2 separate regions of the Homo sapiens genome follow, and region 2 is linked to region 1. A link means that fine-mapping ties the variant in region 1 to the expression of a gene that starts in the linked region. Tissue or cell type: putamen. Region 1 holds a variant in brackets; the other region holds the start of a gene. All regions are shown on one strand. Distances are between the middles of the regions. Region 1 overlaps ANXA11 (annexin A11). Region 2 holds the start of ANXA11 (annexin A11).

The links. PIP is the estimated chance that this variant, and not a neighbour inherited with it, causes the effect.
Region 2: it holds the start of ANXA11, and the variant in region 1 is fine-mapped to the expression of ANXA11 in putamen (GTEx, PIP above 0.99). The same link has a PIP of 0.9 or more in nucleus accumbens and prefrontal cortex.

The regions. Positions count from the first base shown.
Region 1 is chr10:80,173,847-80,182,177 of GRCh38, forward strand. It overlaps ANXA11 (annexin A11), which reads right to left. Exons shown (of 16, transcript NM_145868.2): 2 at 2,261-2,309. Among named protein-coding and RNA genes, the nearest start is that of ANXA11, 28 kb to the right of the region's middle. RefSeq lists enhancers at 2,577-3,078, 3,079-3,578, 4,098-4,598. The variant G/C (reference allele first, on the strand shown) is at 4,103.
Region 2 is chr10:80,202,148-80,210,478 of GRCh38, forward strand. ANXA11 (annexin A11) reads right to left here and starts at 3,390. Exons shown (of 16, transcript NM_145868.2): 1 at 3,196-3,390. LINC00857 (long intergenic non-protein coding RNA 857) reads left to right here and starts at 5,563. Exons shown (of 2, transcript NR_038464.1): 1 at 5,563-6,084. RefSeq lists enhancers at 1,079-1,168, 1,669-1,748, 4,388-5,029, 4,800-5,999, 5,030-5,671 and a silencer at 2,734-3,613.

The sequences.
Region 1 (8,331 bases):
AGAATCACCTGATGGGATTGTTAAAACACATTGCTGGGCTCCACCACCAAGAGTTTCTGAGACAGTGGAACCAGTTTTTGCATTTGGAACAAGTTTCCAGATGATGTTACTGGTCCAGGGAACTCACTTTGAAGACCACTGTTCTAGCCACGCTATCCAACTATAAGAGTCTAGCTGCCCTTCATATCTATCTTGAAGAACTGGGCATATTGGGTTTTGTTTGTTTGAGACAGGGTCTCGCTCTGTCACCCAGACTGGAGTGCACTGGCACAATCATGGCTCACTGCAGCCTGGACCTCCTGGGCTCAGGTAATCCTCCCGCCTCAGCCTCCTAAAGACATGTGCCACCACACACAGCTAATTTTTTTTTTTGAGAGTCTTACTATGTTGCCGAGGCTGGTATATGCTGTTCTTTTTAAGTTTTTTTATTATTTATTTTTATTTTTTTGAGACAGGGTCTCACTCTGTAACCCAGGCTGGAGTGCAATGGTGTGATCTCGGCTCACTGCAACCTCTGCCTCCTGGGTTCAAGTGATTCTCCTGCCTCAGCCTCCCAAGTAGCTAGGATTACAGGCGCCCGCCATCATGTCTGGCTAATTTTTGTATTTTTAGCAGAGACAGGGTTTCACCATGTTGGCCAGGCTGGTCTCGAACTCCTGACCTCAGGTGATCTGCCTGCCTCGGCTTCCCAAAGTGTTAAGATTACAGGCATGAGCCACCATGCCTGGCCTACTTTTATTTTTTAAACAGCGTCTCACTCTATCACCCAGGCTGGAGTGCAGTGGTGCGAGCTCAGCTCACTGTAACCTCCGCCTCCTGGGATCAAGGGATTCTTGTGCCTCAGCCTCCAACAGGAGGGCGCAACCATCCCTGGCTAATTTTTGTATTTTTAGTAGAGATGGAGTTTCGCCATGTTGGCCAGGCTGGTCTGAACTCCTGGCCTCAAGTGATCTGCCCGCTGCGGCCTCCCACAGTGCTGGGATTACAGGCATGAGCCACTGTGCCCAGCCTACATGCTGTTTTTAAGGAAGCTAAAGAACTTCCTTAAGGTACCACCGGTCCCCATAGGGTGGGCCTGGTTTTCAGCCCTACGGGTGTAGTCATTTGTTTGGGTCAGTGGGTCCAGAGGTGACCGTAGGCAAAGCCCTATGGCTTTGGAGAAAGCTGGAATTGGCTCCCTGTAGTGTGGACCAAGGACCTACTCCTTGCAGTTTTCGGTCTCTCTGAGCCCCTAAGCACGTGGTGGATGAGGTCCCCGGTGGCATCACCTTCAGAGAGGGTGTCCCTGAGGCTGGGTGGGCTGTCAGTACAAAGCCCTCCCCGTCCCGGCCCCAGCCTGACCCTTCTGCCCAGACTCTGCCAAACCCTCAGACTTCACTGGTGAGGAGGTAATCTGGGGGATGTAAATGACCAGTAGGCCAGGAACCTTCTAATAGAAGGAACTGCCCGACAGGTGAGCAGGAAGAGCCGGGATGGTGTCTCTGTCACCTTCCTCTCTGGAGACACCACTAGGCAGGACCTTTGAGCACCAAAGACACTCTCCACTCCTGGCCTCCTCTCAGAGAAATGAAGCCAAAAGCTCCATCCACAGCCAGGCCAGGGAAAAAACCCAAGAAACAGAAGCTGGATACCACCCTGTTCCTTATACCAAGTAAATTCCAGCCAGGCCAAATAATGCAGTGAAAGAAGTAGCCCCAAAAACCAACGACATAAATAAAATTTCAGCATAAGAGACAAATTAAAAAAAAATAAAGATGAGAAAAAAACTTAGGAAAAAAGTTTTATTAATATAATAAGAAAAAGATCAATAACCACTAGAGAAACTGTCAAATGATGTGAACAGATCTGGCAGTTACAGAAAAGGAGCTGAAGATGCTCACCTTCACCAATGTGCTGAGGAAATCACCAATTAAAAATACACAGATGTCGGCTGGGCGCAGTGGCTCATGCCTGTAATCCCAGCACTTTGGGAGGCCGAGGTGGGCAGATCACCTGAGGTCAGGAGTTCGAGACCAGCCTGGCCATGGTGAAACACTGTCTCTACTAAAAATACAAAAATTAGCCAGGCGTGGTGGTGGGTGCCTGTAATACCAGCTACTCGGGAGGCTGAGGCAGGAGAATGGCTGGAACCTGGGAGGCGGAAGTTGCAGTGAGCCAAGATTATGCCACTGCACTCCAGCCTGGGTGACAGAGCGAGACTCCGTCTCCAAAATAAATAAATAAATAAAATACAAAGATATCAAAACTTAAAATGACATACCTTTGACTCAGCAACTCCACTTCTGTAAGTCTCTTCCCCAGACACACACCTGTGTGAAATGTCATACAGACATGAATTTTACTACAGCCTTATCTGCAACAACTCCTAAACCTCCACCAATGAGGCTGGTTAAATAAACCACAACAGATCCAACAATGGATACTCTGTAGCTATTTCTGGATTTAGCCAGCTCTGTATATGGAAAGATGCAATGACCACCATTATTAATCAAGGTGCAGTACTGTGTATGTACTAAGCTAATAAAAAACCCAGAAACATACAAACTAAGTGGTTCCTGAGTGTAGACGTGCACGGACATCCTTGGAATGACACACAAGAAACTAGCTAACACTAGCTGCCTCTCGAGAGGAAAGGTGGGGCTAGAAAATGAGGCTTCCGGTTTAGATCTGTTCCCTGTGCATTTCTGCTGCATGTATGTATTGGCCATTAAACAACTTTTAAAAAGGCCCAATTCAGGTGCAGATTTCTGAGCTCACTTGAGGCTAGCCGTCTGGCCCCCAAAGTCCTGGCTGGTCTTCCAAGACTAAAAGAACACACACAGGGTCCATTCAGTTCCAGGCAGCCTTGGTAACCCTGGAGGGCCTGCAGGCCAGCCTTGATGGCGCTCGTGGAGCTCATTCTTGGGGTGGCTTTTAAGGGAGTTCCCAGCAGGAGTCAAAATCTGCCTCCTGGCTAGGAGCTCTGCCCTGCATGGCCCCACAGGGCAGGTCGACCCCACTGTGAGCTGTGGTCCTGCGACCCTGGGTCTTCCCCTCTCCCCAAGATATACCTCTAGTCCTCCGTTCTTAGAAAGAATAGCCTCATTTTTCCCTCTGTCATTCTCTGCCTGAAATAGTTTCAAGCCTGCTCCCCACTTTTTTTTTTTTTTTTGAGACGGAGTCTCACTGTGTCACCCAGGCTGCAGTGCAGTGGCGCAATCTCAGCTCACTGCAACCTCCACCTCCTCGGTGCAAGCAATTCTCCTGCCCTAGCCTCCCAAGTAGCTGGGACTACAGGCACCTGAGGCACCTGCCACCACACCAGGCTGATTTTTGTATTTTTAGTAGAGACAGAGTTTCACTATGTTGGCCAGGCTGGTCTCGAACTCCCAACCTCAGATGATCCGCCCGCCTCAGCCTCCCAAAGTTCTGGGATTACATGCCTGGCCTGACCCCACTCTTATCTTTTAGTTCTTTTCAGGACCAAACGCCCCAGGTATGGTCTGAAGAGTGCAGGGCGGGACCTTCATCTCCCTCCAGTGGATGCTACTCCCTACCTCCCCGGACTGGTACAAGTGGGTTTTCAGGCCACGGAGACCTTATGTGGGCTCCTGTGAAATTTCTCCCCTGGGTTCTGCCCATTGCTCCAGTCTCCTGAGACCTTCTGGGATTCTGCTCAACATCAAACATCTTCCCCCTCTCTCTCAGCTTTGTTTTACATCCATGGATGCAATAAGCATGGCATTTGTGTTCTGCCAAGTAACCAAGACGAAAGGGACAACGAGGGACACTACAGAACTGTCATACTCAGAACTCCCCAGTTCAACATCAAACACTAGGCATCATGTGGGTGCAGGCATTTAACCAGCTCTCCCCCAACTCACTCTGCCACCACCCAGTACACATTTCTCCACATGCCCAAGTGAGGGTTCTAGCACATTTACTCTGAAGAGAGCCTGTTTATCTGCCTAATTACCCCCAGGAGAAAAGTAAACGCAGCCCAATAGCCAGGGGTGACCTTCAGGTGGACACAGGCTCCCAGCGCTGACCAATCTCCCCCCAAGCTATCCATGTTCTAGGAGGCTAGAGGCTGCAGGATTAGCACACTGCTCTCTGACTCACA[G/C]AAGCAGCATTCTTCTCCTCCTTTTCTTTGAAAATTAAGAAATCTGCTCATGGTCCAGTCTTCTGGTAACTGTGACCTCTGCATTTTTTCAAAAGAGGCTACCGCAAGGGGCTGTCCTTGGAGAAGTCGTTCCTGGCACCCCAGGGCTGCCATATCTGGGCTCGGCAAGACTTCTAAGGCCCTCGGGTCCCCCTCCCTAGCCTGTCCAGCACCCACTCCCCAGGAGAGAGGCAACACAGTGAGCTATAATCCAGAAGATCTGCTCTCTCTCTCTCTCTCTCTCTCTGGCATCCATGAGAATCATACCTTTCACCCTGACCAATGCCTCTCTCCTCCTTTCCTTGCATGGGGCAAGAGACATGCTTCACACTGCTGGTGCAATTCTGATGGCTGGGGCATGTCCCCCGCTCTACGCCTGCTTCTAATCACGGCCCTCTGACATGGGGACTCACTGGAGAGGGCCTCCTGCACACAGCAGGCAGCTGGCCTCCTTAAGGATGGGTCCAATTCTTAGAAACCTGTCTCTGGGGACCTTCTGGCCTCTGGTCCTGCCTCTCAGGGCAGGCTGCAGCACAAATACCGCCCTTCCTTCCTCACTGCGACCATCCACCTGCAGCTGTGCACCTGATTTCATCCAGCTGGGGCCCTCTCCAGTTAAATCGGTGCTTCTGGAAAACAGTCCCCTATAGGGCTTGTTAAAACACAGATTGCTGGGCCCCACCTCCAGAGTCTTTGAATCAGTGTCTCTGGGGCAGGGCCCAAAAAGTTGCATTTCCAGTGGCTCCCAGGTGATGCTGATGCTGCCTGCCTGCAGGCCACACTGCTTCATCATGCATGATAATCACCTGGAGAGCTCACTAAACATGCTAGCGCCCTAGCCCCCATATTCTGGGCCTTCTAACCTGGGATAGGCCCAGGAATCTGAAGTGTAAACAAGCATACATACCCCCCAGTCCCCAGTAATTCTGATGTAACTGGTTCTGTGGTCCACACTCTAGGAAACACTCTTTCCCTTAAGGTATTGGACACTCTCTAGCTCATCTGATCTCACTCTTTGACATGGTTTGGATTTGTGTCCCTGCCCAAATTGTAATTTCTAATTACAATACAATCGAATTGTAATTCCCAGCATTGGAGGTGGGGCCAGGTGGGAGCTGACTGGATCATGGGGGCAGATTTCCCCCTTTGGTGCTGTTCTCATGATAGGGTTCTGGTGAGATCTGGTTGTTTAAAAGCGTGTAGCGCCTCCTCCCCACACCTCTCTTCCTCCTGCTCCAGCCAGGTTAAGATCTGCCTGCCACATGATTGTAAGTTTCCTGAGGCCTCCCCAAGCAGATGCCAGCATCATGCTTTCCCTCACTTGGAGAGCTGGCTAAAAATGCTGGTACCTTGGCTCCCATATTCTGGGCCCTTCAACCTGGCATAGGCCCAGCCTGCAGAACTGTGAGCCAATTAAACCTCTTTTCTTTATAAATTACCCAGTTTCAGATATTTCTTTATAGTCGTGTGAGAATGGACGAATATACTCTTCTTCACAATAGTAAGCTCTAGGGACACAGACTAGACCTAGGCACCCCCACAGTTGTATGACAGATGCACCTGACAGCAATCACTTAAGCATACCCAGAACGACCCTATAGTCTAAGAAGAATGTGTGTTCAGAGTTCTGAGCTGAGGAACTGTGGCCAACCTGGAGATCCATTCCTTATCTATAAGGAACATCAGAACCCCTAAGCCATTCCATGGCCATACAGGAGATCAAGGCCCTTTGTTCTGCGTTAAATGAAGGTTGCCAGGTGGAGGTGGTTAGGAAGGAGGATGCTAAATTAAAATGCTATACAAACTGCATGCTTTTTACAAATAGTAGTGGTCCTTCCATCCAGCCTGCTGCCACTGGACCGCCCCATATGTAAGTCCCCTCAATAAGCCCTATGCCTTGTTCGTTGGCTCTGGGTCTCTTCTTCGGCCTCTCAAACATGGTGCCATCCCTATTAAAGTTGACAGGAGTCTGGCATGACAGCACTGCATCAGAAGCCAGCCTCAAAGCGTCTGGTGAATGCCAAAAGCATAGAGCAGCTATCTGGGGGTGCTTCTCAGTGGCTGCAAAATGGCCTGTTCCCTAAAGCCATGTTACGTGTACGTAAGTGTACCATTCAACTCCACAGGCTCTAAAAGGGTACTAGCTGGAGTCCCCTAACACAGGAATCTAGAAATGCTACACTGGGACAGGAGGCAACTGCCAGAGCAAGAAGAGCCTCACTGCCCCGACTCAGTCATCCCCCTACCAAAAGGGAAGCCTTGCTGTGTCTCTACCCAACAATTGGAGGTGGAGATATGGGCTCCAGCCACCAGCAAGGCTAGGCCATGCACATTTGCTGGTGTCCTGCCTGACTTCAGGGATACAGAAGGGAAAGGAGGGGTGGATGGTGTCAGTGCCATGCCTGGGACTCTGGACTGTCCTCCCCAGAAAGACAACACAGGGCTCATTTGGGAACAGAGCCTACACCAGGTTAATGCTGAGAGGCAAGGGCCTAGAAACATCATCTCGGGCCAGAAGCCACACAGCAGTGACACCCCCTGCCCCTCAGGGCCTAACAGCAAACCAAGCAGACCGGGACTACAGTGGATGCTTTCATGGAGTGATTTTCCACTGGCCTTCCCCAGTCTGGTGGCTGGAATATTGATTTGTATATTAGTTTTTTTTTTTTTTAACATTAGATCCTTAACCTGTTTTTACACACACACACACAATTTATTTTTTAAAATACTTTCCCCATAAGGTTGTATCCATAAAATTTAAATATATCATTGCTATTGTTTAAATGTATCCCCCAAAGTTCATGTGCTGCAAACTTAATGGTCAATACAACAGTTCTGAGAGGCGGTACTTTTAAGAGGCTCTACCCTCACGAATGGATTAATGTGTTATGGAGGAAGTGGGCTCCTTACCACCAGTGTGTTTGTTACAAAAGTATAACATGCTCTCTCTTACCCGCATGATGTCTTCTGCCATGTTATGAAGCAGCAAGAAGGCCCTTGCCAGATGCAGCCTCACGATCTTCTCAGCCTCCAGAACTGTGAGCCAAATAAGCTACTATTGCTTATAAATTACTCAGTCTGTGATATTTTGTTAGAGCAGCACAAAATTAACTAAGACAATAGTTTAAACCAGGCAGGTCCAATAATCCCTGCTGATATATTCTTTAAAATGACAAGATGAGGCCAGGCACAGTGGCCCATGCCTATAATCCCAGCACTTTGGGAGGCTGACGCAGGCAGATCATTTGAGCTCAGAAGTTTGACACCAGCCTGGGCAACATAATGAGACCCTGTCGTTACAAAAATAAAATACAAAAAAATTAGCCGAGCACCATGGCATGCGACTGTGGTCCCAGCTACTCTACTCAGGAGGCTGAGGCAGGAGAATCATTTGAGCCTGGGAGGTGGAGGTTGCAGTGAGCCCAGATCACGCCATTGCACTCCAGCCTGGGCGATGGAAGTGAAACCCTGTCTCAAAAAAATAAAAAATAAATAAATAAAATAAAATGAAAGGAAGGAAAAACAAGCCATAGAATGGGAGAAAATAAATGCAAAAGACATATCTGATAAAGGGACTATTATCCAAAATATACAAAGAACTCTTAAATCTCAACAAGAAAACCTTACGATTTAAAAAATAGGCAAAAGACCTGAACAGACACTTCACCAAAGAGGATATAAGGTGGCAAATAAGCATATGAAAAGACGCTCAACATGTCATTAATAAATTGCAAATGAAAACAATAAGATACTACTATACACCTATTAGAATGGCCAAAATCCAAAACACTGATAACACCAAATGCTGGTGAGGATACAGAGCAACGGGAACTTTCATTCATCGCTGGTGGGGATGTAAAGCGGTATAGGCACTTTGGAAGACAGTTTGGTGGTTTCTTACAAAACTAAACATAGTTTTACCAATGATCCAGCAATCATGCTCTTGGTATTTACCCAAATAAGTTGAAAACTTCTGCCGCACACAAAACCTGCTCATGGACATTCACAGTAGTGTTATTCATAATGGCCAACAATTTGGAAGCACCCAAGGTTACACACTGTATAATTCTAACTCTACGATATTCTGGAGAAAGCAACTATGGTGACAGCAAAAAGATGAGTAGTTGCCAGAGGTCAGGGGAGGAAAGAATGAATAGGTGGATCGATGTTGCTTCCCTGATTGTAACAAT
Region 2 (8,331 bases), 28 kb after region 1:
CTGATTCTCCATTCCAGGCAGGCATTTTATCATCCAGAACTGTTCTGTGGGGGGGAAGCGGGGGGTCTCTGTGTGGCTGGGTGGCTTGTCCTAGGATACCTAGCACAGAGAACTCTGTCCCCCAATTTCTTAGTTGCCCCCACCCATTCCTTCCTCACATCAGCATGGGCAAGGCCAGCTGTGGTTTGGGTCACTGTTCAGGCTGTACTTTTAGGATCCTCCCAAATAGCAAACAACTATGTGACTATCAGGTCTTTATTTCATGGGTTATAGGAGATAGGGTCAGTAAGCCTAATGTGTAACAGTTTCAGTGGTTATTACAGAGTTCCATTGAATTGCAACAACTCCCTTTAAAAGCACAAACTCCCACCAAGAAAATCTCAGTTTCTTCATTAATCCTAAGAGCTTTCCTATCTAGGTATCACTCAAAATTCCTACTATTCTGGGGGCAATGGGATCAGAGGGTGTTGCAGAGAAAAATCCAGAGAAAGTGAAAAGTCTACTTCCTTGGCAGTGCTGGTGAAGCATACCCTTACACAGACGCTTCCCCATGGGAACAAGTGCCAGGAACTGCTTCAGGCTTACGGGGGAAAACAGTGGCTAAGAAGAGAGAGGAGGCCGGGCACGGTGACTCATGCCTGTAATCCCAGCACTTTGGGAGACTGAGGCAGGCAGATCACCTGAGGTCAGGAGTTCAAGACCAGCCTGGCCAACATGGTGAAGCCCCGTCTCTACTAAAAATACAAAAATTAGCCGGGCATGGTGGTGCATGCCTGTAATCCCAGCTACTCGGGAGGCCAAGGGAGGAGAATCATTTAAACCCAGGGAGCGGAGGTTGCAGTGAGCCAAGATTGCATCACTGCACTCCAGCCTGGGTGACAGGGCGAAATCTGTCTCAAAAAAAAAAAAAAAAAAAAAGACAGCAGAAGAAGAGGGGTGAATCCAGGAGGAAGGAGGGGGTGCACCAGAAAGGTCCCAGGACCTCTGATGTTCCAGCATTCAGCATGCATTTTGGTTCCACATTCAGCTCCTGCCCACACCAGTTTCTTTTCTCTATTCTACAATTTCCAAGAAGAACCCACACTAACCTATTCTGTCTCAACTCCCACTCCTGTCATCCCAAGCCACACATCACCTCCCCAATCACGTGAACTAGGCATCACTAATCGATCCTGGCCTTCTAGACACATCCACCCAGGGTGGGCCCTTTCTATAGTATCATGCATAAAGGCGTCAGGTGAGGCTTCCACTCCCACCTCTTAGTCCCAATTCATCTCCATCTCACCCTCCCCACGTTTCTCTATCCAAACCCAGCCTTCAAGGTCCTATATTTTAACCACAGGGAAACCACTTCCCTGTGCTGTCTCTGTTGTTCAACTAACGACAACTAATTTTCTGAGCACCTACATTAGGCAAGGCCCATCCTGAGTGCTGCCACCAAGAGGTAAGTCAGAAACAGCCCCCACCCTCCAGAGTCAGAGGACAGGGCAGCGATAAGCCACACCGCCACACAAATACTATGCAAGGCGAGAGATGAGAACCGAGTCAGTGCCAGAAGGGCTGAGTGAGCTCAGAGCATATCCCGTCCCTCCTGCTGGGAGCAGGCACCCGGATGGCTCCCAGGAGGGTGGAGAATGCTAGGCCAGACAGGGGAGGGAGGGCATTCCAGTAAGACAGAGAGCATGAGCTTAGCATGAGCTAAGCCAGAAAGACGGTTCAGGAGAAGTGCATTTCAACTTTAGCTGAACCTTCCACTGCTACTATTTATTGACCCTTACACCTGATTATTTATGACCCAGGCCTGCCTCACACACTTTATGGCTAATGTGGGTGACACCCATCTGGGATACACAAGTGTGGTGCAGCAGTCACCACCTGTTCTGACTGGTCCGTACCTGAGCTCTGTATTGTTATTAAATAAATGAATGCACTGAATCTCACAAGCCTGTGAGGCAGGGATTACTATTACCCCCATTTTACAGATGAAAAACCAAAGCACAGACAATAGTCAAAGAAAAGATAGCAAGGTATGCAGGAGCCTGAAGTAGTGGGCACCCAATGCCAGGGCAACAAACTGCCCTGGCACCTCACCTGGCCTCTCTTATCAGGGAACACCTTGCAGCACAAAGAATGCCTTGAGGAAAGGGGCCCTGTTAATCCCCTGGAATCCCCAACAATTGACTGCCGCATAAAAGGAATGAGGAAAGCAATGAGAGCCAGTGAAGGGTGAGCATACCAGGCCCTGCCCTGCAAACCTAGTCCCTGTTGCGTGGGCAGGGCAGGGCAGGGCAGGGCAGGGGCTCGGCCTCACAGCTCCACTCCATGCCCAGCGCAGAGAACAGAGGGGAGAGCTACCACAAACGCCGAATCTCTACAGAGAGGTCAAGGATTGGAGGGCAGAGACAGAAATGCCCCGGGCTGACTGTTTCCAGCTTGGGCTAGCACTGGCTGGCTTAACTTTTCCCCTCCAAAGTCTCTAGGTAACAAACTTCGCGTGTCTCCTTTAAACCAACAGACCATTTTACCTAAGTCTTAAGGGCCTGGCCTGCACCCATGGGAGATACAAGTCCAGGAATCCCTTCCTGAAACTGGGGATCAAGGTTGGGGAAGGGGCGAAGGCACGCACAGCACCTGGGATGGCTCCCGCATTCCCTCAAACACTGGGGAGAGTTCCTTACAAATAAACTGCAATGGTAGCAGCTCCCAGGAATGTGCGTGCTCCCAGTTTCGGAGGAAAGTTCCTGAAGATAGCCTTCTCTGCTTAATCTCCCCAAGCCTCGCCTAGAAGGGCGCGCGCACCCTGGAGGGCTCCGCAGGGCTGCGGGGCCGGGCCTCCGGCACCCCTCCCGCCACCCGTTGCCTCCTGCGCCCAGGGTCACGGCCCCTGGCCCTACCCAGGCCCAGACTGAGACCCCGACCCCTGAGCCCGGGGGGACGGCGAGTGCACCCCGACCACACATGAGGGAGCAGCCCCAGACGCCGAGGCTGATCTAGGGGGCTGCCAGGCCGACACGGCCCGCCCGCGACCCGCCGACGCCCTCCCCTGCCCCCCACCCCCACGCCTGTAGTGCAACCAGGAAGCCGCAGGGCCGCGCTGGGCTGGGCGCCAGGCAGCCCCGGGCCTCACCCGCGGCGCCGCGGTGCACTGCCGCCGCCTGGTCCCAGGCCCCCAGCCGGCTCGGGACCCTCACTCACCTGGCCACGGGGACTCCGGACGCGAGGGGCGAAATGGGACGTGGGCGGGAGTGGCTCTCTCCGCGGGCGTCCCGGGCGCGGCGCCTGGGTTCTGCCTAGGGGCTGGGTCCCACTCCCGCTCGCGGGGCCCGCGGGGCACTCGGGGCACTGGGGAGCCGCGGGCGCAGCAGCCGTCAGCGCCGGGCGGAAAACTCCGCGGGCGCGGCTGCCCCAGGTGCCAGAGGCAGTGCAAGGGAGGGGCGGGGCCTGAGCGCGGCCCCGCCCCCAAGATGAGGACTGGGCACGGCGGGCCCGCGAGGAGCAGCAGCCTTCCGGCTGCGGAGCTGCTCCAGGAAGTCTCGGGCTCCGGAGGTCCCTCTGCCGCCCCTAACCCCTGCGGCGCCCAGTGCCGCGCAGAGCCGCATTCGCCCTCCTGCAGGGGTGGGCATTTCCTAAGTCCTCTCCAGCCCCGTGTGCGTCGGTTAGTGACTCTCTTTAAGGTCGAGAAAACTTTTTACACTGAAAAGGTCAAACGCATTTCCTTTATAGCAACACTCGGTGGTGGTGGAGGGGGGAAGGTCACGCACAGTATGTGAGGAAGGGAGCGGTCAGTGACTATCGTGGAGAAACCTGACAAACCACCCAGCCGTCAAGGTGACCTCGACAGGGGTAAATCATACTGATTGCATGCACCGCTTGTGGTCTTCCTCCCAAGAACACCTAACCCCACTGTAATCATGAGGAAAACATCACAAATCAATTGAGGCCCTTGCCATATACATGACCAGTACTCCTGAAAACTAGCAAGGTCATCAAAAACAAGGAAAGTCTAGGACACTGTCACAGCCAAGAGGAACCCACGGAGATATAAAAATGACTTAAGATGTTAATAATAGGAAAAGCCCGGGTTTATGAGAATTCCCTGTATTCACACTTTTTCTGTAAATCTAAAGATGTTCTAAAAATAAAGCATATTTTTAAAAGGTCACCCAGGTAATATATGCATATATGGTAGGTATACAATTTTTTTTTTTAATGAGTGGTGGCTGACGCCTGTAATCTCAGCACTTTGGAAGGCCAAGACAGGAGGATGGCTTGAAGACAGGGCTTCCAGACTAGCCTGGGCAACATAGTGAGACCCAGTCTCTAAAAAACTAAAAATAAAAAATTCAAAAAATGAGTAAAAATTGAGATTCACTCTTCCCTCCACTCCCCCAGCCCACTCTTAGGTGTGTCCTTCCAAATATCTCTCTTTAACACTGTGTGTGTGTGTTTACATAAACGTATTGTTTACAAAACGATATTGCAGTACTTTTCTGCAACATGTTTTTTTACTCACTATATCTTGGAGGGTCTTTCCATACAAGTGCTCCTGAACAGACCTGGTTCTTCCCATCCACTGCACACTGCGCGCCATCGTGCGCTTCACCATTCTTCATTACCTAGCTCCTTACTGAAGGACATTTAGGTTGTTGCCTATGTTTGGCTGTTACAAACAAGCTGCTGGTTCGATTTTCCTTTTTTTTTTTTTTTTTCTGAGACGGAGTCTCGATCTGTCGCCCAGGCTGGAGTGCAGTGGCGCGATCTCGGCTCACTGCAACTTCCGCCTCCCGGGTTCAAGCGATTCTCCTGCCTCGGCCTCCTGAGTTGCTGGATCTACAGATGCCCACCACCACGCCCGGCTAATTTTCATTTTTAGTAGAGACGGGGTTTCACTATGTTGGCCAAGCTGTTCTCGAACTCCTAGGCTCAAATGATCCGCCCGCCTCGGCCTCCCAAAGTGCTGGGATTACAGGCGTGAGCCACCGCGCCCGGCCCGATTTGCGTTTTAAAGTCGCTCTGAACAATAAAATCCGGAAGGACTGGAGGGGAGGCTCCGACCTTCTCCCTGTCTGGGCAGGTGTGCTGGTGCCGGGCAGGAACGGTGCCTTGGGACAGCCTGGCCCCGGCCTCACAACGGGCCCCGGGCGCTCAGTCATATTCCGTGGCCGCTCCAACACCCCCTACCCCCACCAGCAGGCGCGGCTCTCTTTCGGGGCTGGACTGCATTTTTTGGACATGAGTCGGCGAGTGAGGGTGAAACTCAGGCCAAAGTCTCCAGAGCCGCTCGGAGAAAACGCTGCCTGGAACAGAAGAGCAGAGGATCAGAGGCACCACCAGAGACTCTCAGAGTGGGTTATTACCCTGGTGGGGGCGCCTGCTGCGGCGTAGGAGATGGCGGGACTGGGGGCGCGGGTGTGAAGCCCCCAAGAAATCTGTGTGAATTTCCTGGGGAGGTAAGGTCTCCAGGCGCTCTCTCTGGGCCCGGGGATTGGTCCGGGAAGGTCTCCTGGCGCCTACCCAGCCCCCACTGCCTGGACGCCTGCGCCTGCTCTGCCGCCCCACAGCGACCGCGAAGGCCAGCTTCTTCGAAAGGCCCATTTTTCTCCGTGGCTGAGCGAATGCTCCTAGAATACCACGTTTATAATAAATCATGTAGGGTGGAATTCCTGCTGGATGTATACACCTTTCTGCATCAGAGCTCTTCAAACCCAGAATGGTGAATAGCTACCCCTGGGCTTACCCTTTTATAATTTTCAACAAACCTGCGTTTAGCCCCGGCTAGGTGCCAGCAAGTTGCTAGGGACTGAGGAGGCTCTGCAGAGGACCCGAGCTGAGGCCCTAATCCTCAAGGCCAATGGCAGGGGTCACCGCCCAGGCACCCCCAGAGAACGCGGTGTGAAGGAAAAGACACCAAACTCGGTGTTCAAATGTGTGGGATCTATTCTAGTTCTGATTCTGACACTTGCAAGTCATGCATCCTCCGAGCCTCGGCTTTCTCACCTATAAAATCTTCAACGTGACCTATAAAAATCCATAAAATCACCCCTGCTTCATTGTTTCCCAGGGCTCATAGAAACATCATACAAGGTAAGGGAAGGTGAGTGCACTGTAAAAAATGGTGACGTGCTATATAGCTCTGAGTAGTATGGTATATAAGCTTCCTTTTTAAAAATTTTAATTTTAGGGCCAGTGTTGGGATTACGGGTGTGAGTTACCGCACCCGGCCTCTTTTGTTGTTTTCTAATAAGTATATATGACTATCATTTCCCTCAAAAGTCTGCTTTAGCTGAATATCACAAGTTTTAATATGCTATGCTTTTGTTATCACTTAGTTATACATATTTGGATTTTGTTGTTGTTGTTGTTACAGAGTCTCGCTCTGTCGTCCAGGCTGGACTGCAGTGGCAAGATCTCAGCTCACTGCAACCTCCACTTCCCGGGTTCAAGAGATTTTCCTGCCTCAACCTCCTGAGTAGCTGGGATTACAGGTGCACGCCACCACACCCGGCTAATTTTTTAATTTTTAGTAGAGATGGGGTTTTACCATTTTGGCCAGGCTGGTCTCCAACTCCTGACCTCAAGTGATCCACCGGCCTCAGCCTCCCAAAGTGTCGGGATTACAGGCGTCAGCCACTGTGCCTGGCCAATATTTTGTTTTTTATGTTAGGATTGTATGCTTAATTCATGGATTATTTAGACGTATATTTTCCATTCTTTTTTTGTTTTCAAACTTCAGTTTTTTAAAAAATAATAATAATCATTTGGGGAGGGGCCCAGTGGCTCAGGCATGTAATCCCAGCACTCTGGGAGGCCAAGGTGGGAAGATCGCTTGAGATCAGGAGTTTAAGACCAGCCTGGGCAACACAGTGAGAGCCCCTCTACAAAAAAAAATTTAAATAAAAATAAATCAATCATTTTGTCATTGATCTCTAACTTTAATGCTTGGAGATGAGGAAATGTGTTCTTTTAGAATTTGTTAATGCCTCCTTTGTGGCCTCATATACAGACTTTTTTTGGCTGTCCCAATTTTTGTGAACGTCTCTTCACTTTTTATGTGGTTTTTTTTTCTCTATATCTCTCCATCTAGCTTGCTAATCAGGTTATTTAGATCTTTTATCTCCTGGGTTTTTTTTTTTTTTCTCTCCTGTTCAATCCATTGATTTCTGAAAGAGTAGGTTTAACATTTCCCACTTTTATTGTAGTTTGTCAATTTCTCCCTCTAATTTAGTCTGATTTTGCTTTATACTATTTTTTTTGGTTTTTTGATTTTTGTTTAAGAGGCAGTGTCTCACCATGTTTCCCAGGCTGGAGTACAGTAGCTATTCACAGGTGTGATTATAACTGCAGCCTCAAACTCCTGACCTCAAGCCATCCTCCTGCCTCAGCCTCCTAGGTGGCTGGCATTACAGCCATGTACCACCTCACCCGGCCAGCCTTATAATTTTGAGAGCAAATTATTAGGCTTATACAAATTAATATTGTTTTATCCTTTTATGACTTATTCAGTTTTATTACTTTTTGTATAAATATTGTTATCCTGAGATAGCATTTGTCTAGTATATGTTTTATTTCTCCTTTTTTACTCTTTCTGTATTGTTACTTAGGTTTATCTCTTGGAAATGACATATTGTTTTTTACAAGATTTAAAAAGTTCATCTGAGTTTCTATTTCTAATTTGTGAGTTTAACCAGTTCACATTGATAAGAATAACAGAAATATTTGGGTTTATTTCTGCCATCATTTGTGTTATACATATACCCTTGAAATGGATATTCATCTAGAACACATTGATAAAATCCTATAAATTATTACAAACTGGAATTCTTCCATGCTGCTTGGTAAATAGCTGCTCACCTGAGACCCCACAGTGCCCCCACTCCTGACCTTCTTCTGATCTGGCAAAAAAGGGTCAATGCTTCTCACAGGGAGACCCTCTAGGACCTTTTCTAAGATTCTAATTAGTCAGCAAACAGGCTACACCAGTGGCTTAATATTTCAAATATCATGTACAATATGCTTTCTTGTTGTTTCTTTTTTCTCTTTCCCTGCATTCGTTTGGATTGTTTGAATTTTCTTTAATAGGAGGGAGGTACAAGAATTACAGATGTATCAATAAATACCAGCCTACTAGTACCTTTACCAGAATATCCCTCAAAAGCTCAAATTTATCATGTCAAGAAATGAACTTTTTCTCTCTAAACCTGCTTTTTCTCCTGGGTTCTGTCCCCCGCTGGGGTACCACAGTCTGACAAGCCATTCCAGCTAGAGATCTGATAGCAGCTGGATTTCTGTCTGCCAGAATCATTTTTCAAATGCTGTCAATAGAGACGGATT